5 separate regions of the Homo sapiens genome follow, and regions 1, 3, 4 and 5 are each linked to region 2. Evidence: fine-mapped expression QTL. A gene starts in region 2. Each other region holds a variant in brackets. All regions are shown on one strand. Distances are between the middles of the regions.

Region 1 (5,000 bases), 190 kb before region 2:
TGTATAGAATTAAGAGCCATCAAAGGGGATCCCTGAATTCTTTCTGTTTTTCTTACAAATACCAGTTTTAAGGTCAAGATTTACTACCCCATGCAACAGTGTGCCACATTTTAAATTTTAAATTTTTGACTGTTTGTCTAAAGGTCTCAGGCAACCTAAAAGGCCAGTTAGAAGTCTTTCATCCTCTAACAAAGGATGGATCGTAAAATGAAATACTGTTGAGACTCTCCCCTTGGGTACTAATTCTGCAAAAACCTAGAATCTCAGAGACAAGAGACAAATATTTGGAGTGGATCATTAGATGTAATGACAAAAGGAGTCACTTCAACATTCATAACAAAGATCAAAGATTGTTGTATTTTTTATATGGGAGACACCAGACAAGCTTATACTTAGTTACTAGTTCAGAGGATACACCACCACATCCTCTGGCATGAGTACAACCTTATAAGCCATTGTCTCCAGCTGGCACTGTGATTGAGTCTTTAATAAAATATTCGCCATTCTATAATAATAATAATTTTGGTTAGTGATAGGATAAATGGTGGACCAGGTGAGTGCAGTGAATATCTACTCATTTGTTATACAACAAGTTCTTTGAATAGAAGGATGTAGAACAGGATATTATGGCAGTATGTATAAAGCATTCAATGTACCCACGGAGAGTGGTGATCAGAGAAACATGATGTCAGGTCAAGCAAATGTAATTCAAGGATATAAAGCTAGATTCCATTTACAACATTCCTTGTTGCCTTTATCATAGAGGAGCTCCAGTAAAATCAACAAGTCTGACAAAAGGTGACTGTTTTTTTCACCCAGGATATGTTATTTTGTGCTTAGCCTTGGTCCTTGTTGCTTGTGTGTTGGACACCTAATAGTCTTGACAGCTAAATAGGCTTTGGTAAGGGACAGTGGTAAAGTCCAACATGTTGCTAAACCTATATGTATTCTCTACTGCTACCACCAATGTTGCTGTTTATTAGCCTTCTGAGCAAGCAATGTAGTGCCTGGTGAAAGAAGTTGTTTCATACCTTCATATTTATTTGATAACCTTCCTGATGATAGTTTGGTGAGTATTCATATTAAGCACAAATATTCTTACACTCTGGCTCATTTTCTGTAGTTCATCTACGTATTTTTCCCCAAAACTCATTGTCACCAATCCTTCAATCTTTGTCCTTCCAAGTCCCTAATTATCTTTTTTTTTTTTTTTTTGAGACGGAGTTTCGCTTTGTTGCCCAGGCTGGAGTGCAGTGGTGCAATCTTGGCTCACTGCAACTTCTGCCTCCTGGATTCAAGAGATTCTCCCGCCTCAGCCTCTCGAGTAGCTGGGACTACAGGCACACACCACCACACCTGGCTAATTTTTGTATTTTTAGTAAAGATGGAGTTTCACCATGTTAGCCAGGCTGGTTTCGAACTCCTGACCTCAGACAATCCGCCTGTCTTGTCCTCCCAAAGTTCTGGGATTACAAGTGTGAGCCACCAGTCCTGGCCCCAAGTCCCTAATTACCTAGACAAATTTTTAGCTGCCACATATAAATCAGTAATATCTCTCCTTCTAGACATCGTGGACAACTGATTACATAGGCTGAATTTCTTTTAAAATTGCATTCAAGTAGGTTATAATGCCTAAGCAATCTACTTTTGGCTGTTGCTGTGATGTTGTACAGCGACTTCTGTAAATCAGGCTCAATTTTTCCCTCACTAATCAACTGGCCATAGAGAAATTCCCATGAAGACATAGGTATAGATTCTATTATTCCTACCTGCGGATGAAGCAGGATAGTTAACTGGAAAACACTTATTTCATGATAAGCAGCTCATGTTGTCATATTTTTTTGCATTGGTAAGACTTCAGTTTCTACAATGGTCCAGGATCAATCAAGAATTCTTTAAAGAAAACATTTATTTTGTCAAAGAAAGAAGCATTTTGTTCCAAATCCTAAGAACCATAGTAGTGGTGTGTCAGAGGCTCTATTGCATCTGGATATAAAAACAAAGGGGCACAATATTCCTGACCAGTTGGGAATTATTATCTTGATCTCAATCCCATCAAAAGATGGCAGCATGACAAGTCATAAAGTAAAAGGACCAGGTGATAAAATGAGGTCTCCAAAATCCAATGCATCAAAGTTCTCAATTAGTGGTCAGGACTGCAACGTGCCATAATTTTTCACTTTGGAAGGTATACCTTGAGTATATTGAGTGTATGAGGCAAGTTAAAAGGTCATGCAGCTGAGCGCGGTGGCTCA[C/T]GCTTGTAATCCCAGAACTTAGGGAAGCTGAGGCGGGCGGATCATGAGGTCAGGAGTTCAAGACCAGCTTGGCCAACATGATGAAACCCCGTCTCTACTAAAAATACAAAAATTAGTGGGGCATGGTGGCGCCCTCCGGTAGTCCCAGCTACTTGGGAGGCTGAGGCAGCAGAATCGCTTGAACCTTGAAGGCGGAGGTTGCAGTGAGCTAAGTTGGCACCACTGCATCCAGCCTGAGTGACGCAGTGAGACTCTGTCTCTTAAAAAGAATTAAAAAATAAAAATAAAAATCTTAAAAGTTTGTGATAAACACCTCTGTTAGCCTCTGATCTTTATAATAATTATCACACACACACAAACCAAACACCACACATAGAGGAAACAGTAAAAGATTAAAGGACACAGCTAAAAATACATTTGTATTGTTACTTCCCAAAGTTCTAAAATTATGAGAAGGGACTAGTGAATCTTTAAAAAATATTGATTATCCAACACTTTGTAATAATGACTGTAATTGCATTGAAGGCTACTGAACATGCACATATTCCTAAAATTTTTCTGTTATGGTATCTGGTTTGCGAAAGGAACAAAATTAAACACAGTTCCTTGGCAATTTTTCTCTCTTCCACTCTACTCATTGGCATATGTGCCACATGTGTTTATTGTAAAATAGGAATAAGATTCAGAGGTCAAGAATCAAAGTGAGTCAGAGTAGGAAAAGCCAGACTCAAGCGGAACAGAAGGGCAGCAAACCCCAAAATTAAAGGGTAAATTTAAACACAAGTAGAAGTGGTTCAAAAGCTAAGGGGATCCTCATAGTTCATGAAAAACAAGTATTCACGCAGGTAACAGACTCTAATCTGCTGCAAGCCAATGTGCTATTCTCTTCATGTTATTTATATCCCTCAGAATACCTCAAAGTTCCCGAGAGCAGTCAGTATTTAACTCTAAACTATATCATATATATGATATATTTATTATATATAATATATATATATTTATTATTATTTTTTTTGAGATGGAGTTTTGCTCTTGTTGCCCAGGTTGGAGTGCAATGGCACTATTTCAGCTCACCACAACCTCTGCCTCCCGGGCTCAAGTGATTCTCTTGCCTCAGTGTCCTGAGTAGCTGGGATTACAGGCATGTGCCACCACGCCTGGTTAATTTTGTATTTTTAATAGAGACGGGGTTTCTCCATGTTGGTCAGGCTGGTCTGGAACACCCATCCTCAGGAGATCCACCTGCCTCGGCCTCCCAAAGTGCTGGGATTATAGGTGTGAGCCAACGTGCCCAGCCAACTATATCATATTTTAATTGTGTAGTGATAACCCTCATCAAAAGAAGTATTCATTATGGTCAGTGTACTCTGCTTACTTACCACTGAAGCTTAACACAAAATTGTTGAAATAAACATGCATATTGAAGTACTCAGCTAGCTATTGAGGCAATACAGGTTTCTAGATTTACTCATTTTTTTTCACTGTACACAAATGTCATGTGTGTCATGATAAACCCATGTGTGTGCATATATTGATTAAATATTATATTTCTTTTTACTTTTATTACTATTATTGAGAAAGGGTCTCACTCTGTCGCCCAGGCTGGAGTGCAGTGGCACGATCTCAGCTGACTGCAGCCTTGTCCTCCGAAAGCCCTAGACCCTATAACATAACAGAATATGTATGTTTCTAATTTGTGCAATATTGAAGCAGGAATACTAGATAGTACTGTCATCTTTTCCTATTGCATTTATTTTGGTGTGGAAAAATATAATAATTGGCTTCAATCACTAAGTCTATTTCATTCAAGAATATTTAAATATAATCCAAACCATCTTAAGTACATTTTGTGATACAAGAGGATGGTATCTTCTATTTGGAAATATAAAATCCCAGGGTCTCACAGTTTAAGTATACTTTCCAGGGGTATGTGTAAAACAAGAATCCCACTTTACAAAATTAATAGAAAAAATATGCTAATTGGAAGGAGAGGCTACTGATTGAGGATAAAGTGGAAATTTTCACATACTGCTAATTACACTTCAATGGAGTAAGAAAAAAAGAACTGGAAATAGTACCCTATAAAACTTCTGAAATGAAATTACAGTTTGTCTCTCTCTCTCTGTTTCTTTTTTTTTTCTTGAGATGGAGTTTCACTCTTGTTGCCCAGGCGGGAGTGCAATGGTGCTATCTGAGCACACTGCAACCTTCGCCTCCCGGGTTTAAGTGATTCTTTTGCCTCAGCCTCCCAAGTAGCTGGGATTACAGGCATGCACCACCATGCCCAGCTAATTTTTTGTATTTTTAGTGACCCACCACGCCTGGCTGTCTCCTCTTTTTAGAATTAGGAGAACTGATTTTTTTCAATGCTAAACTGGCACTGTACTATGTTTTCAAGAAAGCAATATGGTGAAATGAAAGAAGCTGGATAGCATGTTTTGTTAGCTGGTGTCGAGTTCTTTAAGTTCCATGAGCCTATTGTGTCCTCTCTACATCTCAAAAAGAAGAGAGAAGAAACCTGCATCTAATTACTGAAGCAGTTTCATTCAGCAAATGTAATTGCATCACAGGCACATCTCAAATTAGAAATCTTGATCTTGGTCTCTGTCATTTCCATTTTAAACTGGGACTGAATAACCTGTTTTGCCACTCAAAATAATAGCCAGTGTCTCTTTCTTATTAAAAAATGTGATCTTTTGCTTGATTACCTAATTATGTCACCTGCACCTTACATGAGGCAGATAG
Region 2 (5,000 bases):
GATTTGTCCAGTGGGAACCCCTTTAAATGTCCTTAAAGGTAAAAACTGCCAGCATGTTCTACTGAGATATGGACTAACAATGTCAGACATATGTGGGTGCTTGAATAGTATTTGCTTCAAAAATATTTATTACTAGAAAGCTGCTGTGTTTGGGGTGAGAGGTTAGTAGGGAAGGGGGTTCATAAAGGGAATGCAAAAGCCACGTCCTCTGGAAGTTAAAGGATCATTTTAAATGATTCTACTGCAAACATTTTTCAAAAGATAAACATGACCCATTTCTCCAATTTGTGTCATGTAATAGTAATAATAATGATATTTAAATACTCCCACTGATATGTCCTTTACAAAGATATATTATATGTCTTATTTAATCAAAAAACCTTAAAAGAGTCCCTGTACCTAATTTTATTCCAGGACTCAAACTGTGTCAGCATGTCATTCAGTGCAAATCAGACATTTAGATGCATAGGCTATGCTGTCAGTAGTTCTGAACTTTCATAGACATTTCCAATTAGCTCGGAGAGACAACTGGATATTGTGTTTAAGCACTGTGTTTAGGAAAACAGGCACTGGATGGACCAATGCCAAATTTCCTGCTCTGCTGCTTAACTAAGTATGTGTAATTACTTGGGCAATTACTTAAGCAATTACTTGGGCAATTACTTAAGCCAATCCCCAATTTCTTCGTCTTGAGCCCAGAAGGTCAAGGCTGCAGTGAGCCGTGAATGTGCCTCTGCCCTCCAGCCTGAGCGACAGAGTGAGAATTCCCCAGGAGTGCAGAGGTTCTCAGAACTGCAATACTCTGAGATGAATTTTGAAAGGTGAATCAGGGATAGAAAAAGTTATATAGGGAAGGCAGTCAATAAGCTTGTTTTAAAGGATATGGAGCATTTGAAAAAGTGGAATGTACATAAGGCTGGAAATATCAAATATCTAAATATAGAACAGGAACAGTGATGAAAAGACTTTCAAAATGCTTAGCAAAATGAGAATTATATTTCTTTCTCAACTCTTTTGTTCCAACAGCAAAAGCAACAGTGGGGATCAGCATCAACTTGGGTAAGTAAGTTTTTCTGGTCATAAATAGGCTGATTCAACTGAAAAAAATGTTTCTTTAAGAAGGGTGAATTTGTGTCTAAGGATTTTATGAGACTAACTGGGAAAAGTCAGTCAGAGTTTAGTTTGAGGTGAGAAGTGCTTACTGTTGACACTCTACCTAATTATAGGGAAATGTGTGCAGTTAGTCCTGAGACCAGATGCAGGGTTGAAAGAAAGAGGTGTGATGTAGCAGCCATTGATTAGGCAATTTGGGTTTAGCAAGCCCAGTCAATGCCCTCAGAGGGTCAACAGTGTATAAGATTTAGTCCTTGAAGGCATCTTTTAAAGTTTCATTCAGAAGATTTTAATAATTTTGACCATAATTTTCTGAGAAGAGGCTTTTCTGAGATTTGTCATTCACAGATAAACAGTTGTCTAATTTGTGTGTGTGTGTGTGTACATGTGTGCATGCGTGCATTTGTGCATGTGTGCCTATCTAGCCTCTTTTGAACACAATGGTAGATTGGCACCTGGTAGATAATATTGTTGAATGAATTGTATTATTCATATTATCTCACTGCCAATTTGAAGAATCTACATTCTGTTTCCAAAGTTTTGTGCATATAATACTAAACCAGAAACAGACGTGTTTTAGTAATACGTACCAATTACAAATTAACCATTCCTGCCTGGAATAAACACAGGTTTTGTTAAATAGCTCAATTTTCAAAATTTGTCTCATGTTATTTCCAATCCTTTTTTTTTTAACGCCGATATATTTTGAATTTACGAATGTGAAAGCTGAACTTCAAAAAAATAAAGGGAGAGGAAACAAAGCTCGTGAAAAATTTTAAAAATATCTTTTAATGCGTTATAACATCCTGGAGAGAAATCAAATCAATGTGTTTCAATGTTACAATATAGATTTCTCCTCCCCTCCCGGATAAAGCACTAATTTATTTAATTTGGTTCAGAGCACTGAATATTCCAAGCTACAGCCTTGTGGGTAAGAGCATTATCTTAAAGAGTGTTCGGATTTAACAAAGGTCAATGTCTTGTGCAGTTTACATAGTATCTACTCTCAGTAGCTTTTGCTTCTTGAGCTCTAGGTGGCTCCTCAGAAGCTGTTAGGCTTAACAAACAAAAATAAAGTAAAATCAGACACGGTATGGGGCCTTGGGACTCTAAAACCTTCATCCGGAGAAAATCAGTTAAGCCTTCAGAGACTAGAAGAGAGAATGTGTGTGATTGGTAGGCAAAGCAAAGAAAGATTAACACAAGTTGTCTGGCAGCTGGATAAAACCTTACACCTGCGCAAAAATAAGCCTCCCTCGTAAGAAAGCCCAAAGATGTCCGGGGTCCGGGAGGAGAAAAGTGTTTCTCATCTGTCCCATCAAAGCAAATTAGTGAAACCTGCCTCAGGTGAAGTGCAAAGGCCAGTCTGTAGGCAGAGTTTCGACCTCTCCCCACGAGATTGGCTAGACATCACCTGCCCAAGCTCTCTCCCGACCTGCTAGAGCCGAGAGGGCGGAGGCCGGAGAGGCTGCAGCCGGGAAGTAGCACCGCCACCGCACATCCGGGAACGCCAGCAGCCGGCTGAGGGCTGCATAACTGATGGAGGGCCGGGCGCGGTAAGAGCGTCTCGGGGGAGTGGGGCAAGGCGGCCGGGCCCCTCCCATTCCGCCTTTTCTTCAGCGTCCTACCCGCGGCACTGGCTGCGAGCGCCGGGCCACCTGCGAGTGTGCGCAGGGACTCTGGACACCCGCGGCGGCGAGCTGAGGGAGCAGTCTCCACGAGGACCCAGGCGGACCCTCTGGCGCCATGCGCGCCCTCCCCGGCCTGCTGGAGGCCAGGGCGCGTACGCCCCGGCTGCTCCTCCTCCAGTGCCTTCTCGCTGCCGCGCGCCCAAGCTCGGCGGACGGCAGTGCCCCAGGTGTGATGGGTACAGGGTCCAGGGTAGGGAGGGCGGAGGGCGCGCGAGGCTCGGGTCCCCGCGGGCAGAGGGCATCGCCGGCGCGCCGGGCAAGGGTGGCGGGGAGAGGCGCGGGGATGCTGGTAAGGGCGGGTGGGAGAGTCGGCGGCGGCCTCCCATTAGCTACGTTTGTGTCACCTAAGCTGAACCCTGAAACTGCTGCGGCTCGCGTTCCTGCGCTCTTTGGGGCGAGTCTTGAACGAACAGCGCCCCGCGAGTCGGGCGCGTAGGTAACAGGGCAGAGTCTGGTTTTTCCTAGGAAGAAGGCAGTGGGGTGTGTGGGTGGTTGCAGGGACCAGCTAGCGACTTGGCTTGGGCAAATATGGCATGAATTTTGAAAGCCACATTTCCCCAAGGCCTACTCCCTTTTCTTGATTCGAGAGTAAGGCTCGAGTATCACCTCCTTCCCTCCTCTTGGCAGGTGGGTTGGCTTTGAGGATTTTTTTTTTTTTTTTTTTTTTTTTTTTGAGACGGAGTTTTACTCTTGTTGCCCAGGCTGGAGTGCAATGGCGTGATCTCGGCTCACCGCAACCTCCTCCTCCCGGGTTCAAGCGATTCTCCTCTGTCAGCCTCCAGAGTAGCTGGGATTACAGGCATGCGCCACCACGCCGGGCTAATTTTATATTTTTAGTAGAGACTGGGCTTCTCCACATTGGTCAGTCTGGTCTCGAACTCCCAACCTGAGGTGATCCGCCCGCTTCGGCCTCCCAAAGTGCTGGGATTACAGGCGTGAGCCACCTCACCTTGCCGAGGATGTTTTTTTAGAGCTGAGTAGGGGAAAAAACATCATAACCAACTAGCCAACCAAAGATCCACAACTTACAGGATAACGTGTGTGTATCTTCATTTTACACCGTGGTCTTTGAAAACAAAATGTGTGTGTGCATGTGTGTGTGTGTATGTGTGAGATTTTTGCTTGTTGTTTTATTGTTTAAGACACTTTGACAGAGGGATTACGTGCAAAACATTAACAAAGCCAACACGAAAGTTGCCATTCTACCTTCACCTGTTTATAATTACTTTTCATATTGAAAGGATTCCATCCAACCTATTGCAAGTTTCTGTGTCATAAATGTTACCAGCCAGTAAGGGTAATAAAAGACCACCTCTCAAGCTGGTAAATATTGGCCACCAGTAACTAAAATTGGGACATTATTCTGCAAAAAGTTTTCAAACTCTCATGGGAATTTATTTTCATGGGCTTGTAAGATGTGGAATTTTTGTAACACACCATAGAGAAGGAAGGATAATCAAAAGGTAAGACTATTAATTTTTATAAATGCCTTTTAAAACGTCTAGTTGTTAACAACTTGGACAGAACATCGTGGGTTCCTTCGCAGATTTCCTTGTGCCACATCTCTTTTCCATAATACCACTTATAAAGAATTGTCCAGGCCTGTAATCCCAGCACTTTTGGGCGCTGAGGTGGGAGGATGGCTGGAATCCAGGAGTTCAAGACCACCCCGGGCAACATAGCAAGGTCCCTTCTTTATTAAAAAAAAAAAAAAAAAAATTAAAAGTGCGGTTGTGGTGATGTACACCAGTAGTCCCAGGTGCTTGGGATGCCAAGGCAGAAAGATTGCTTCAGTCCAAAGTTTGAGGCTGCAGTGAGCTATGATGGTGATGGTGCCACTAAGCTCCAGCCTGGGTGACAGTGCAAAACTGTCTCAAAAAAAAAGAAAGAAAAAGAAACAGAATTGTCCAGGACATTTTTCCCCCTTCTGGGTATCTCCAATTCTTCTATCCCTGGTTCACCTCAGAGTATTGCAGTTCTGAGAACCAGTGCATTCTGGATTCATTGTAGAACTTTGATTCTCTACTTGACTGTATGTCAGAATCACCAGAGAGCTTGAAAAATCCTGATACCTGGATCTTTTCCCGCAAAACTCTGGTTCATTTGGCTTGGGATTCAGTGTGGGCATTAAGGAGTTTCATCAGCTCTCCATGTAGCTTTAAATGTGATTTTAAGCTGGTTAAAAACCACAGCTTT
Region 3 (5,000 bases), 210 kb after region 2:
AACTTTCTTTTTATTAAGCTCCTTGGAAACACTCTTTTTGTAGTATCTGCAAATGGATATTTGTAGCGTTTTCTGTCCTATAGCTGAAAAGGAAATATCTTCACCTAAAAACTAGACAGAAGAATTCTGAGAAATTTCTTTGTGATGTGTCCATTCATCTGACAGAGTTCAACCTTATTTTACTAAGCAGTTTGGAATCACTTTTTTTGTACTATCTGCAAATGGATATTTGGAGGGATTTGAGGCCTATAGTGGAAAGGGATATATCTTCACTTAAAAACTACACAGAAGCATTCTCAGAAACTTCTTGAATGCTTCTCAGAAGTGTGTCAATCTTGGATATTTCCTACTTTCTCTTGTGGGCATTTAGTGCTAAAATTTTCCCTCTTCACACTGCTTTGAATGTGTCCCAGAGATTCTGGCATGTTGTGTCTTTGTTCTCATTGGTTTCAAAGAACATCTTTATTTCTGCCTTCATTTCATTATGTACCCAGTAGTCATTCAGGAGCAGGTTGTTCAGTTTCCATGTAGTTGAGGGGTTTTGAGTGAGTTTCTTAATCCTGAGTTCTAGTTTGATTGCACTGTAGTCTGAGAGACAGTTTGTTATAATTTCTGTTCTTTACATTTGCTGAGGAGAGCTTTATTTCCAAGTATGTGGTCAATTTTGGAATAGGTGTGGTGTGGTGCTGAAAAAAATGTATATTCTGTTGATTTGGGGTGGAGAGTTCTGTAGATGTCTATTAGGTCCGCTTGGTGCAGAGCTGAGTTCAATTCCTGTGTATCCTTGTTAACTTTCTGTCTCGTTGATCTGTCTAATGTTGACAGTGGGGTGTTAAAGTCTCCCATTATTATTGTGTGGAAGTCTAAGTCTCCTTGTATGTTACTCAGGACTTGCTTTATGAATCTGGGTGCTCCTGTATTGGGTTCATATACATTTAAGATATTTAGCTCTTCTTGTTGAATTGATCCCTTTACCATAATGTAGTGGCCTTCTTTGTCTCTTTTGATCTTTGTTGGTTTAAAGTCTGTTTTATCAGAGACTAGGATTGCAACCCCTGCCTTTTTTTGTTTTCCATTTTCTTGGTAAGTCTTCCTCCATCCTTTTATTTTGAGCCTATGTGTGTCTCTGCACATGAGATGGGTTTCCTGAATACAGCACACTGATGGGTCTTGACTCTTTATCCAATTTGTCAGTCTGTGTCTTTTAATTGGAGCATTTAATCCATTTACATTTAAAGTTAATATTGTTATGTGTGAATTTGATTCTGTCATTATGATGTTAGCTGGTTATTTTGCTTGTTAGTTGATGTAGTTTCTTCCTAGTCTCCATGGTCTTTACATTTTGGCATGATTTAGCAGCGGCTGGTACCGTTTGTTCCTTTCCATGTTTAGTGCTTCCTTCAGGAGCTCTTTTAGGGCAGTCCTGGTGGTGACAAAATCTCTCAGCATTTGCTTGTCTGTAAAGTATTTTATTTCTCCTTCACTTATGAAGCTTACTTTGGCTGGATATGAAATTCTGGCTTGAAAATTCTTTTCTTTAAGAATGTTGAATATTAGCCTCCACTCTCTTCTGGCTTGTAGAGTTTCTGCCAAGAGATCTGCTGTTAGTCTGATGGGCTTCCCTTTGTGGGTAACCTGATCTTTCTCTCTGGCTGCCTTAACATTTTTTCCTTCTTTTCAACTTTGGTAAATCTGACAATTACGTTTCTTGGAGTTGCTCTTCTCGAGGAGCATCTTTGTGGCATTCTCTGTATTTCCTGAATCTGAATGTTGTCCTGCCTTGCTAGATTGGGGAAGTTCTCCTGGATAATATCCTGCAGAGTGTTTTCCAGCTCGGTTCCATTCTGCCCATCACTTTCAGGTACACCAATCAGACGTAGATTTGGTCTTCTCTCATAGTCCCATATTTCTTGGAGGCTTTATTCGTTTCTTTTTATTCTTTTTTCTCTAAACTTTCCTTCTCACTTCATTTCATTTATTTCATCTTCAATCACTGATACCCTTTCTTCCAGTTGATCGCATCAGCTCCTGAGGCTTCTTCATTCTTCACATAGATCTCAAGCCTTGGCTTTCTGCTCCATCAGCTCCTTTAAGCACTTCTGTGTATTGGTTATTCTAGTTATACATTCGTCTCATGTTTTTCAAAGTTTTCAACTTCTTTGCCTTTGGTTTGAATTTCCTCCTGCAGCTCGGAGTAGTTTGATTGTCTGAAGCCTTCTTCTCTCAACTCATCAAAGTCATTCTCCATCCAGCTTTGTTCTTTTGCTGGTGAGGATCTGTGCTCCTTTTTAGGAGGAGAGGCACTCCACTTTTTAGAGTTTCCAGTTGTTCTGCTCTGTTTTTTCCCCATCTTCGTGGTTTTATCTTCTTTTGGTCTTTGATGATGGTTATGTACAGAGGGATTTTTTGTGTGGATGTCCTTTGTGTTTGTTAGTTTTCATTCTAACAGACTGGACCCTCAGCTGCAGGTCTGTTGGAGTTTGCTAGACGTCCACTCCAGACCCTGTTTGCCTGGGTATCAGCAGCGGTGTCTGCAGAACAGTGGTTTTTCTTGAACCACGAATGCTGCCATCTGATTGTTCCTCTGGAAGTTTTGTCTCAGAGGAGTACCCGGCCGTGTGAGGTGTCAGTCTGCCCCTACAGGGGGTTGCCTCCCAATTAGGCTGCTTGGTTTTCAGGGGTCACGGACCCACTTGAGGAGGCAGTCTGCTCGTTCTCAGATCTCCAGGTCTGTGCTGGGAGAAACACTGCTCTCTTCAAAGCTGTCAGACTGGGGCATTTAAGTCTGCAGAGGTTACTACTGTCTTTTTGTTTTTCTGTGCCATGCACCCAGAAGTGGAGCCTACAGAGGCAGGCAGGACTCCTTGAGCTGTGGTGGGCTTCACCTAGTTCGAGCTTCCCAGCTGCTTTGTTTACCTAAGCAAGCCTGGGCAATGGTGGGTGCCCCTCCCCCAGCCTCGTTGCCACCTTGCAGTTAGATCTCAGACTGCTGTGCTAGCAATCTGTGAGACTCCATGGGCACAGGACCCTCTGAGCCATGTGTA[G/A]GATATAATCTCCTGGTGTGCCATTTTTTAAGCCCGTGGCAAAAGTGCAGTATTCAGGTGGGCATGACCCAATTTTCCAGGTGCCATCTGTCACCCCTTTCTTTGACTAAGAAAGAGAACTCCCTGACCCCTTGCACTTCCTGTGTGAGGCAATGCCTTGCACTGCTTTGACTCACACTTGGTGCATGCACCCACTGATCTGCACCCACTGTCTGGCACTCCCTAGTGAGATGAACCCAGTATTTCAGATGGAAATGCAGAAATCACCTGTCTTCTGTGTCAGTCATGCTGGGAGCTGTAGACTGGAGCTGTTGCTATTCAGCCATCTTGGCTCCAAAATCCCTATATTTTGATTGAGCAGTTAGGAATCTAACATTTTGTGTAATCTGCATGTGGTTATTTGGAGCCATTTTTGGCCTATGGTGGAAAATTAAATATCTTCAAATAAAAACAACATGGAAGGATTCTGATAACCTTCTGTGTGATGTGTGCATTCGTTTCACAGAATTGAAACTTTCTTTTGAATTAGCAGTTTTGGAACACTCTTTTTGTAGAATCTGCAAGTGGATATTTGGAGCGCTTTGTGTCCTATGATGGAAAAGGAAATATCTTCACATAAAAACTACACAGAAGCATTCTGAGAAACTTCTTTGTGAAGTTTGCATTAAACTCACAGAGTTGAAACTTTCTTTTGATTGAGCAGTTTTGAATCACTCTTTTTGTAGATTCTGCAAGTGGATATTTGGAGCGCTTTGAGGCCTATGGTGGAAGTGGAAATATCTTCACATAAAAACTAGACAGAAGCATTCTGACAAACTTCTTTCTGATGTGTGCATTCAACTCACAGACTTGAACCTTTGTTTTCATTGAGCAGTTTTGAAACACTGTTTTTGTAGAATCTGTAAGTGGATATTTGGAGCACGTTGAGGCCTTTGGTAGAAAAGGAAATATCTTCATGTAAAAACTAGGCAGAAGCATTCTGACATACTTCTTGTGATGTGTGCTTTCCACTCACAGAGTTGAAGCTGTTTTGATTGAGTAGTGTTGAAACTCTCTTATTGTAGATTCTGCAAGTGTATATTTAGAACCCTTTACGGCCTATGGTGGGAAAGGAAATATATTCACATAAAAACTACACAGAAGCATACTGAGAAACTTCTTTGTGATGTGTGCATTCATCTCACAGAGTTGAAACTTTCTTTTGATTGAGCAGTTTGGAAACACTCTTTTGTAGAATCTGTGAGTGGATAATTGGAGCACTTTGAGGCCTATGGTGGAAAAGAAAATATCTTCACATAAAAACTAGACAGAATCATTATGAGAAACTTCTTTGTGATGTGCACATTCATCTCACAGAGTTGAACCTTGGTTTTCATTGAGCAGTTTGGAAACACTCTTTTTGTAGGATCTGAAAGTGGATATTTGGAGGGCTTTGAGGCCTATGATGGAAAAGGAAATATCTTCGCATAAAAGCTAGACAGAAGCATTCTGACAAAATGCTTTCTGATGTGTGAGTTCAACTCACAGAGTTGAACCTTTCTTTTGATTGAGCAGTTTTGAATCACTCTATTTGTAGATTCTGCGAGTGGCTATTTGGTGTGCTTTGAAGCCTATGGTGGAATAGGAAGTATCTTCACATAAAAACTAGATAGAAGCATTCTGACAAACTTCCTTCTGATGTGTGCATTCATCTCAGAGAGTTAAACCTTTGTTTTAATTGAGCAGTTTTGAAACACTCTTTTTGTAGAATCTGCAAGTGGATATTTGGAGCACTTTGTGGCCTATGGTGGAAAAGAAAATATCTTCACGTAAAAACCAGACAGAGGCATTCTGAGAATCTTCTTTGGGATGTGTGCATTCATCTCAAAGAGTTGAACCTTTGTTTTCATTGAGGATTTTGGAAACCTTATTTTTGTAGAATCTGCAAGTGGATATTTGGAGCCCTTTAGGGCCTAT
Region 4 (5,000 bases), 150 kb before region 2:
AAATCAAAACCACGATGAGATACCATCTCACACCAGTTAGGATGGTGATCATTAAAAAGTCAGGAAACAACAGGTGCTGGAGAGGATGTGGAGAAATAGGAACACTTTTACACTGTTGGTGGGACTGTAAACTAGTTCAACCATTGTGGAAGTTGGTGTGGTGATTCCTCAGGGATCTAGAACTAGAAATACCATTTGACCCAGCCATCTCATTACTCGGTATGTACCCAAAGGATTATAAATCATGCTGCTATAAAGAGACGTGCACCCGTACGTTTATTGTGGCACTATTCCCAATAGCAAAGACTTGGAACCAACCCAAATGTCCATCAATGATAGACTGGATTAAGAAAATGTGGCACATATAAACCATGGAATACTATACAGCCATAAAAAATGATGAGTTCACGTCCTTTGTAGGGACATGGATGAAGCTGGAAACCATCATTCTCAGGAAACTATTGCAAGGACAAAAAACCAAACACCGCATGTTCTCACTCATAGGTGGGAATTGAACAATGAGAACCCATGGGCACAGGAAAGGGAACATCACACACCGGGGGCTGTTGTGGGGTGGGGGGAGGGGGGAGGGATAGCGTTAGGAGATATACCTAATGCAAATGACAAGTTAATAGGTGCAGCACACCAACATGGCACATGTATTCACATGTAACAAGCCTGCACGTTGTGCACATGTACCCTAAAACTTAAAGTACAATAATTAAAAAAAAGAAGTAAACATCAGTTGGTGACAAATAATAATATCTGCTTTGTGGGGAAAATTAAAGGCCCTGGAGAGGTATCAGGATGCACTAATTGTTCTTAATGTGTTCTGTCTTTTATGGTAATCACTGATTAAAATTTCATTAAATGAGTATGTATTATGCCTCAACAGAGAATGCCACTATCCCCCATTGTGATGTTGTTTGCTATGACAAAAAATTAACCAAACTTTACAGTTTTATTATCAACAACATCTCCTCCCCCTATCCCCGCTGCTTTTTTTTTTTTTTTTAGATGGAATCTCTCTCTGTTGCCCAGGCTAGAGTGCAGTGGTGTGATCTCAGCTCACCGCAAACTCTGCCTGTCGGGTTCAAGCTGTTCTCCTACCTCAGCCTCCTGAGTAGCTATATTCAGGTGCCCACCCCCACGCATGGCTAATTTTTCTATTTTCAGTAGAGACAGGGTTTCACCATGTTGTCCAGGCTGGTCTCAAACTCCGGACCTCAAGTGATCCACCTGCCTCAGCCTCCTAAAGTGTTGGGATTACAGACATGAGCCACTGTGCCCAGCCCTTCTTTCCCTTTAAGCATACCTAAAAGCCTTTCTACAAAGCGCCAATCAGAATTTAAGTCATCTGGAAGAAATATCAAAAGAGCTCCAGTAAAAACCGTAGCAGACACTGTTGATACTGTTGATACCACAGGAAATTGACTCATGGATATAGGCCTCCAAGAATAGGCTGACCTTGTCCCCACAAACAATATTCCAACTATACCAAGTAAATGAGTCAGGATTTCCAAGACACTCACAATGTAGAAGCAGATGAATTCATGAAAGCAGACTGCTTAACTCAAGACCAGCATGACAAGAGGTTGTTATTTAGGATTAAAGGACCTCAATAAAGCGATTTAATTGAGGTTAGTTTAATTTTCTACTTTAATGAACATGAGAGAAACCCATTTTCTTTCTTCTTAATCTATCTTTAACCTCCAATTAAATTTACAAATTATTGAATTTGTAAAAACTAAATAAAACACTCTGAATTCTTAGTGTTGAGGAAAAAAATACCTTGTAGAAATTCTTAATATAAAAACAAAGCTAATAAATTGCCAAGAAAAACATACAAATAATTATTTTGTAAAGAATTGTGACATACAATATTTGGTTTTGTCTATTAACATACTCTTAATTAGCAATATTGGTTAATTCTTACACAAAGTTTCTTTAATAAAAACATTTACTTTTTGTGACTATGTAGTTATTTGTATTGGTTCAATAAGAATTTGTCCTCCCTTCTACCTGAATATATAACTAATTAGAAAAATCTTTTTTTTTTTTT[A/TA]GATGGAGTCTTGCTCTTTTGCCCAGGCTGGAGTGCAATGGCATGATCTCAGCTCACTGCAAACTTCCAGTCTTGGGCTCAAGCACTTTTCCCACATCAGCCTCCTGGGTAGCTGGGATTACAAGCACCCACCATCATGCTAGGCTAATTTTTGTATTTTTATAGAGACGGGGTTTCACCATGTTGGCCAGGCTGGTCTTAAACTCCTGACCTCAGGTGATCTGCCCGCCTTAGCCTTTCAAAGTGCTGGGATTACAGGCGTGAGCCACCTTGCCTGGCCAGGAAGAATTAATTTTTTAATAAAAAATTTATAGCTGTGCTACAAATTCAATTAAATTAGACAAGACAAATCCAGTAATAAGAATAATTTCTATGTTTTTCACGCAGAAGTGATGCCTATAACATCCTTCTAGGAAACCAGTCTGGTACATGCTGTATGGACTATGCAATCTCAGGCTTGGAGGTTAAAAAGAATGTCCTTTCTTGGCAGAGCAGGGACATCAAGACATCTGGATATCTTTTATTAAAAAGGATACATTTGCATTATAAATACTGCAGGTGAAATCAGGTAGAGGTGAGCTGACTGGTTTGGTCTGCTCTAAACTGAGCTGTTAAACATGTAAAAGTAAATTTAAACCACAAGGGCTTTATAAATCTATAGATAGACATAAACTTGTAAGCCTTAGTTTATTGTTTCGTCAAAAAAATACTAGGAGGTCATTAAATTAATATAATCAACACTTCTTCTTAGATCTGTGCAAATAAAATGGCTCAAAGTAAAATGTAAAATCAATAGTACTGATTAGGAACATTGTTCAGCAAATGTAGGTAGACAAACATGTCCTGTAGAGGAGGAAACATGACCACAAGATGAAGTGTAAAAACCAAAGTGACATCTGGGCCTGACACCATTGTCAGCCCGTACATCATGTCCCACTGCTGAAGAAACAGAGAAAAAAACCTCTGCACTCTGACATAAAGAAACAATAAAAGAGTCTCTCTGTTTACTTGCAGTCCTCCAAATGAATAAAACCTTGAGCATTTCCTGAGAGTTGCTAACTCCTTAATGAAAATTACTTTATCCTTGACTTTACAATGCTATTTATTGTCTGAAGATATGTCATGAACTTTTTGAATACAATAACCATGATAAAATTGCTGTTTTCTGCCATGAAGAGACTAATATAAAGCCTATAGTCTTCACAATACTGTTTGTTTTAAAAAATTCTATTTTTTAAATTTTTTGGGCCAGTTCTTTTGAAGACTGACTTCCTCACATTTCTTTGCAAGTAAATGCCTCCTGCTTATTTTTCCGACATGCTTTTGTTTCTGAGCCTTTCTTTCATGCTCTATACACACAAATCAGCAGGAGATGGTACCTGCAGCTATATTTGGAGTTTACTGCCTCAATGTTCACTTGCAATGAAAGAGAGTATTTCTGTTCTAGCTTCTTAACAAAAGACTAGAAATTCATGCTGAACCAACAAATTGTCCTCTATATTTTTCATCTGCAAGGAGGATTTAAATATTTCTAGCTCAGTATTTCAGCCCTGAAGATTATTTCACCCCCACTGCTAATCGTGACCTAATCTGTTTTTGTGTTGTTAATGCTCCTATATACTAGCCTGGTCAGTAATTCAATAACAGGCTTAATTTCTTAATATTTTAGGCCATGTGTTAATTTTGCTATTTCTTAGCCATTATTCCTCAATAGTTTTAAACTGCATCCCTGCTTACCCTCCCTTTTACTGGACAGGCTTCCTCTGTTTACTAATACAATTCCCCAAATTGATTCATCCACTTGTTGAAATACCTAATTTTAGGCCTTGCACTGACAGCTTGCCTAGGCTTATACTTGTTGTGTTTGGTGTTGTAGTCTTCAGATTCTAAAAACACCATCTAGACCTTACATTACCTCCAGCCAGGCCTATTCCCCCAGGGCCTGCCTTAAGGAGCAGATTTCTTTTCAAGTTTCATCTTCCTCCCATTTATTTCATTTCATGACAGTTAGAGAAGCTGTATACGAACATATGACAAATGGTAAGTTAGCAGAGAAAAATGTTATTTTAGGATAAGTTCAGGGAAAGCTTTTTGGAGGAAAGTCAGCTCACATTAGTCCTGATGATGGATAGTGGACTACAGATGATGGAATGATGAAGTGGAAACTCGGGTGGGTACATATGGACATTCCACATAGAAGCAGTGTGAGCAAAACCACCAAGACAGGAAATGAGATGGAATTGATAAGGCAATGCAAATAATTCAGGTTATTTAGATAATCAGTGTTGGGGGACGCTGGATTTATGGGAATCAATGGTTAATCAAAATGTGAGCAGCATTGGTTTGGTAATTCATGGAAGAGGTTATCATTCAACAGGGGGAGTGGCTTCTCAATTATAAACAAACATGTCTGAAGGTCACTGAACATCAAGGCTATCCTTCAGTTAAAATCTTATTAAAATTATACTGACCTCTGATGACCTTCAGAGAGCTCCAGCTAGATGGACTGATGATAAGAGAAATTCGAGAAGGCAATGGGACAAATCTTTCTGCAAATCTCTGTTATGTCATATATCTAAGGTTTCTGCTGGATCCAGTGATTTGTTTGTTCTGACTGTAGTACAAACCTATTGGAACAATAAATCTAGTTATAATAAATGACAGAGGGCATTCAAGCAGATGCAAGAAGCAAAATATACAGGTGTAAAGACAAACTATATTAGGCCTCCCATCAAGCTTCTCTAACATTTTCACACCACAGCCCTGCCTGACTTCTCTGTATCTGGGTAGGCCCCTTCTGTTTGTTAAACCAGTTCTCTGATGGTGACTACCTGATTCTCTAGTCCTCAAGTTCACTCATCCTTTTTATTGAGAATGACATTTTTAGACTACTAATAATGTTTATATATAAGAAAGAAACTGAGTTTTTATATAAATA
Region 5 (5,000 bases), 290 kb after region 2:
GACAGAAGCATTCTGAGAAACTTCTTTGTGATGTGAGCATTCATCTCAAAGACTTGAATCTTTCTTTTCATTGAGCAGTTTTGAAACACTCTTTTTGTAGAATTTCCAAGTGGATATTTGCAGTGCTTTGAGGAATATGGTGGAAAAGGAAATATCTTCACATAAAAACTAGACAGAAGCATTCTGTGAAACTTCTTTTTGATGTGTGCATTCACCTCACAGTTGAAACTTTGTTTTGATTCAGCAGTTTTGAAACACTCTTTTTTATAATCTGCAAGTGGATATTTGGAGGGATTTGAGGCCTATCGTGGAAATGGACATATCTTCAAATAAAAACTACACAGAAGCATCATGAGAAACTTCATTATTATGGGTGCATTTATATCACAGTGTTGAAACTTTCTCTTTTATTATTATTATTATAGTTCAAGTTTTATGGTACATATGCATAATGTGCAGGTTAGTTACATGTGTATACATGTGCCATGCTGGCGTACTGCACTCATTAACTCGTCATTTAGCATTAGGTGTATTTCCTAATGCTATCCCTCCCCTCTCTCCCCACCCCTCAACAGTCCCCAGAGTGTGATGCTCCCCTTCCTGTGTCCATCTGTTCTCATTCTTCAATTCCCATCTATGAGTGAGAACATGTGGTGTTTGGTTTTTCATCCTTGTGATAGTTTACTGAGAATGATGATTTCCAATTTTATCCATGTCCCTACAAAGGACATGAACTCATCATTTCTTATGGCTACATAGTATTCCATGGTGTATATGTGCTATATTTTCTTAATCCAGTCTATCATTTTGGACTTTTGGTTGGGATGCAAGTCTTTGCTATTGTGAATAGTGCCGCAATAAACATACGTGTGCATGTGTCTTTATAGCAGCATGATTTATAGTCCTTTGGATATATACCCAGTAATGGGATGGCTGGGTCAAATGGTATTTCTAGTTCCAGATCCCTGAGGAATCACCACACTGACTTCCACAATGGTTGAACTAGTTTACAGTCCCACCAACAGTGTAAAAGTGTTCCTGTTTCTCCACACGCTCTCCAGCACCTGTTGTTTCCTGACTTTTTAATGATTGCCATTCTAACTGGTGTGAGATTGTGTCTCATTGTGTTTTTGATTTGCTGTGATGGCCAGCGATGGTGAGCATTTTTTTTCATGTGTTTTTTAGCTGCGTAAATGTCTTCTTTTGAGAAGTATCTGTTCATGTCCTTCACCCACGTTTTGATGGGGTTGTTTGTTTTTTTCTTATAAATTTGTTTGAGTTCATTGTAGATTCTGGATATTAGCCCTTTGTCAGATGAGTAGGTTGCAAAAACTTTCTCCCAATTTGTAGGTTGCCTGTTGACTCTGATGGTAGTTTCTTTTGCTGTGCAGAAGATCTTTAGTTTAATTAGATCTCATTTGTCAATTTTGGCTTTTATTGCCATTGCATTTGGTGTTTTAGACATGAAGTCCTTGCCCATGCCTATGTCCTGAATGATAATGCCTAGGTTTTCTAATAGGGTTTTTATGGTTTTAAGTCTAACGTTTAAGTCTTTAAAACATCTTGAATTATTTTTTGTATAATGTGTAAGGAAGGGATCCAGTTTCAGCTTTCTACATATGGCTAGCCAGTTTTCCCAGCACCATTTATTAAATAGGGAATCCTTTCCCCATTGCTTGTTTTTCTCAGGTTTGTCAAAGATCAGATAGTTGTAGCTATGTGGTGTTTTTTCTGAGGGCTCTGTTCTCTTCCATTGATCTATATCTCTGTTTTGATAGCAGTACCATGCTGTTTTGGTTACTGTAGCCTTGTAGTATAGTTTGAAGTCAGGTAGTGTGATGCCTCCAGCTTTGTTCTTTTGGCTTAGGATTGATTTGGGGATGCGGGCTCTTTTTTGGTTGCACATGAACTTTAAAGTAGTTTTTTCCAATTCTGTGAACACAGTCATTGGTAGTTTGATGGGGATGGCTTTGAATCTATAAATTACCTTGGGCAGTATGCCTTTTTTCATGGTATTTATTCTTTCTACCCTTTCTTCCATTTCTTTGTATCTTCTTTTATTTCATTGAGCAGTGGTTTGTAATTCTCCTTGAAGTGGTCCTTCACGTCCCTTGTAAGTTGGATTCCTAGGTATTTAACTCTCTTTGAAGCAATTATGAATGGGAGTTCACTCATGATTT[G/C]GCTCTCTGTTTGTCTGTTATTGGTGTATAAGAATGCTTGTGATTTTTGTACATTGATTTTGTATCCTGAGACTTTGCTGAAGTTGCTTATCAGCTTAAGGAGATTTTGGGCTGAGACAATGGGGTTTTCTAGATATACAATCACGTCGTCTGCAAACACGGACAATTTGACTTCCTCTTTTCATAGTTGCATACCCTTTATTTCCTTCTCCTGCCTAATTGCCCTGGCCAGAACTTCCAACACTATGTTGAATAGGAGTGGTGAGAGAGGGCATCCCTCTCTTGTGCCAGTTTTCAAAGGGAATGCTTGCAGTTTTTGTCCATTCAGTATGATATTGGCTGTGGGTTTGTCATAGATCACTCTTATTATTTTGAGATACGTCCCATCAATACCTAATTTATTGAGAGCTTTTAGCATGAAGGGTTGTTGAATTTGTCAAAGGCCTTTTCTGCATCTACTGAGATAATCATGTGGTTTTTGTCTTTGGTTCTGTTTATATGCTGGATTACATTTATTGATTTGCATATATTGAACCAGTCTTGCATCCCAGGGATGAAGCCTACTTGATCAGGATGGATAAGCTTTTTGATGTGCTACTGGATTTGTTTTGCCAGTTTTTTACTGAGAATTTTTGCCTCAATATTCTTCAACTATATTGGTCTAAAGTTCTCTTTTTTGGTTGTGTCTCTGCCTGGCTTTGGTATCAGGATGATGCTGGCCTCATAAAATGAGTTAGGGAGGATTCCCTCTTTTTCTATTGATTGGAATAGTTTCAGAAGGAATGGTACCAGTTCCTCCTTTTACCTCTGGTAGAATTCGGCTGTGAATCCATCTGGTCCTGCACTCTTTTTGGTTGGTAAGCTATTGATTATCGCCACAATTTCAGAGCCTGTTATTGGTGTATTCAGAGATTCAACTTCTTCCTGGTTTAGTGTTGGGAGGGTGTATGTGTCGAGGAATTTGTCAATTTCTTCTAGATTTTCTAGTTTATTTGCATAGAAATATTTGTAGTATTCTCTGATGGTAGCTTGTATTTCTGTGGGATCGGTGGTGATATCCCCTTTATCATTTTTTATTACATCTATGTGATTCTTCTCTCTTTTCTTCTTTATTAGTCTTGTTAGTGGTCTGTCAATTTTGTTGATCCTTTCAAAAAACCAGCTCCTCAATTCATTAATTTTTTGAATGGCTTTTTGTGTCTCTATTTCCTTCAGTTCTGCTCTGATTTTAGTTATGTCTTGCCTTCTGCTAGCTTTTGAATGTATTTATTCTTGCTTTTTTAGTTCTTTTAATTGTGTTGTTAGGGTGTCTATTTTGGATCTTTCCTGCTTTCTCTTGTGGGCATTTAGTGTTGTAAATTTCCATCTACACACTGCTTTGAATGTGTCCCAGAGATTCTGGTATGTTGTGTCTTTGTTCTCGTTGGTTTCAAAGAACATCTTTATTTCTGCCTTCATTTCGCTATGTACCCAGTAGTCATTCAGGCGCAGGTTGCTCAGTTTCCATTTAGTTGAGCAGTTTTGAGTGAGTTTCTTAATCCTGAGTTCTAGTTTGTTTGCACCGTGGTCTGAGAGACAATTTGTTATAATTTCTGTTCTTTTACATTTGCTGAGGAGAGCTTTACTTCCAAGTATGTGGTCAATTTTGGAATAAGTGTGGTGTGGTGCTGAAGGAAAAGTATATTCTGTTGATTTGTGGTGGAGAGTCCTTTAGATGTCCATTAGGTCACTTGGTGCAGAGCCAAGTTCAATTCCTGGATATCCCTGTTAACTTTCTGTCTCAATGATCTGTCTATTGTTGACAGTGGGGTGTTAAAGTCTCCCATTATTAATGTGTGGGAGTCTAAGTCTCTTGTAGTTCACTCATAACTTGCTTCATGAATCTGGGTGCTGCTGTATTGGTTGCATATATATTTAGGATAGTTAGCTCTTCTTGTTGAATTGATCCCTTTACCATTATGTAATGGCCTTCTTGGTCTCTTTGGATCTTTATTGGCTTAAAGTCTGTTTTATCACAGACTAGGATTGCAACCCCTGCCTTTTTTGTTTTCCATTTGCTTGGTAGATCTTCCTCCATCCTTTTATTTTGAGCCTATGTGTGTCTCTGCACATGAGATGGGTTCCCTGAATACAGCACACTGATGGGTCTTGTCTCTTTATCCAATTTGCCAGTCTGTGTCTTTTAATTGGAGCACTTAGTCCATTTACATTTAAAGTTAATATTGTTATGTGTGAATTTGATCCTGTCATTCTGATGTTAGCTAGTTATTTTGCTCGTTAGTTGATGCAGTTTCTTCCTAGTCTCCATGGTCTTTACATTTTGGTGTGATTTTGAAGCAGCTGGTACTGGTTGTTGCTTTCCATGTTTAGTGCTTCCTTCAGGAGCTCTTCTAGGGCAGGCCTGGTGGTGACAAAATCTCTCAGCATTTGCTTGTCTGTAAAATATTTTATTTATCCTTCATTATGAAGCTTAGTTTGGCTGGATGTGAAATTCTGGGTTGAAAATTATTTTCTTTAAGAATTTTGGCCAGGCACAGTGGCTCACGCCTGTAATCCCAGCACTTGGGAGACAAAGGCGGGTGTATCACGAGGTCAGGAGATTGAGACCATCCTGGCTAACATGGTAAAACCCTGTCACTACTAAATATACAAAAAATTTACAGGGCTTGGTGGCGGGTGCCTGTATACCAGCTACTCGGGAGGCTGAGGCAGGAGAATGCCATGAACCTAGGAGGTGGAGCTTGCAGTGAGCCCAGATCGCTCCCCCATGCTCCAGACTGGGAGACAGAGTGAGACTCCGTCTCAAAAAAAAAAAAAAAT

Alleles and levels. Alleles are on the strand shown, and positions count from the first base shown. SD is a standard deviation of normalised expression in the study named. Not every link is listed here.
With allele C in place of T in region 1, the expression in tibial artery of the gene that starts at base 2,723 in region 2 is higher (small effect, 0.31 SD a copy in GTEx).

The links. PIP is the estimated chance that this variant, and not a neighbour inherited with it, causes the effect. A credible set is the group of variants that fine-mapping cannot tell apart.
Region 1: its variant is the best candidate, but not a certain one, in a credible set for the expression of EMB in tibial artery (GTEx, PIP 0.53).
Region 3: its variant is the best candidate, but not a certain one, in a credible set for the expression of EMB in whole blood (INTERVAL, PIP 0.84).
Region 4: its variant is the best candidate, but not a certain one, in a credible set for the expression of EMB in non-classical monocytes (Schmiedel 2018, PIP 0.62).
Region 5: its variant is the best candidate, but not a certain one, in a credible set for the expression of EMB in whole blood (TOPMed, PIP 0.57).

What each region holds. Positions count from the first base shown.
Region 1 is chr5:50,627,622-50,632,621 of GRCh38, reverse strand. No RefSeq gene overlaps it. Among named protein-coding and RNA genes, the nearest start is that of PARP8, 37 kb to the left of the region's middle. The variant C/T (reference allele first, on the strand shown) is at 2,256.
Region 2 is chr5:50,439,011-50,444,010 of GRCh38, reverse strand. EMB (embigin) reads left to right here and starts at 2,723. Exons shown (of 9, transcript NM_198449.3): 1 at 2,723-2,971. The coding sequence starts at 2,860. RefSeq lists silencers at 2,780-2,909, 2,990-3,179.
Region 3 is chr5:50,228,486-50,233,485 of GRCh38, reverse strand. No RefSeq gene overlaps it. Among named protein-coding and RNA genes, the nearest start is that of EMB, 210 kb to the left of the region's middle. The variant G/A (reference allele first, on the strand shown) is at 3,045.
Region 4 is chr5:50,591,841-50,596,840 of GRCh38, reverse strand. No RefSeq gene overlaps it. Among named protein-coding and RNA genes, the nearest start is that of PARP8, 72 kb to the left of the region's middle. The variant A/TA (reference allele first, on the strand shown) is at 2,063.
Region 5 is chr5:50,147,291-50,152,290 of GRCh38, reverse strand. No RefSeq gene overlaps it. Among named protein-coding and RNA genes, the nearest start is that of EMB, 290 kb to the left of the region's middle. The variant G/C (reference allele first, on the strand shown) is at 2,181.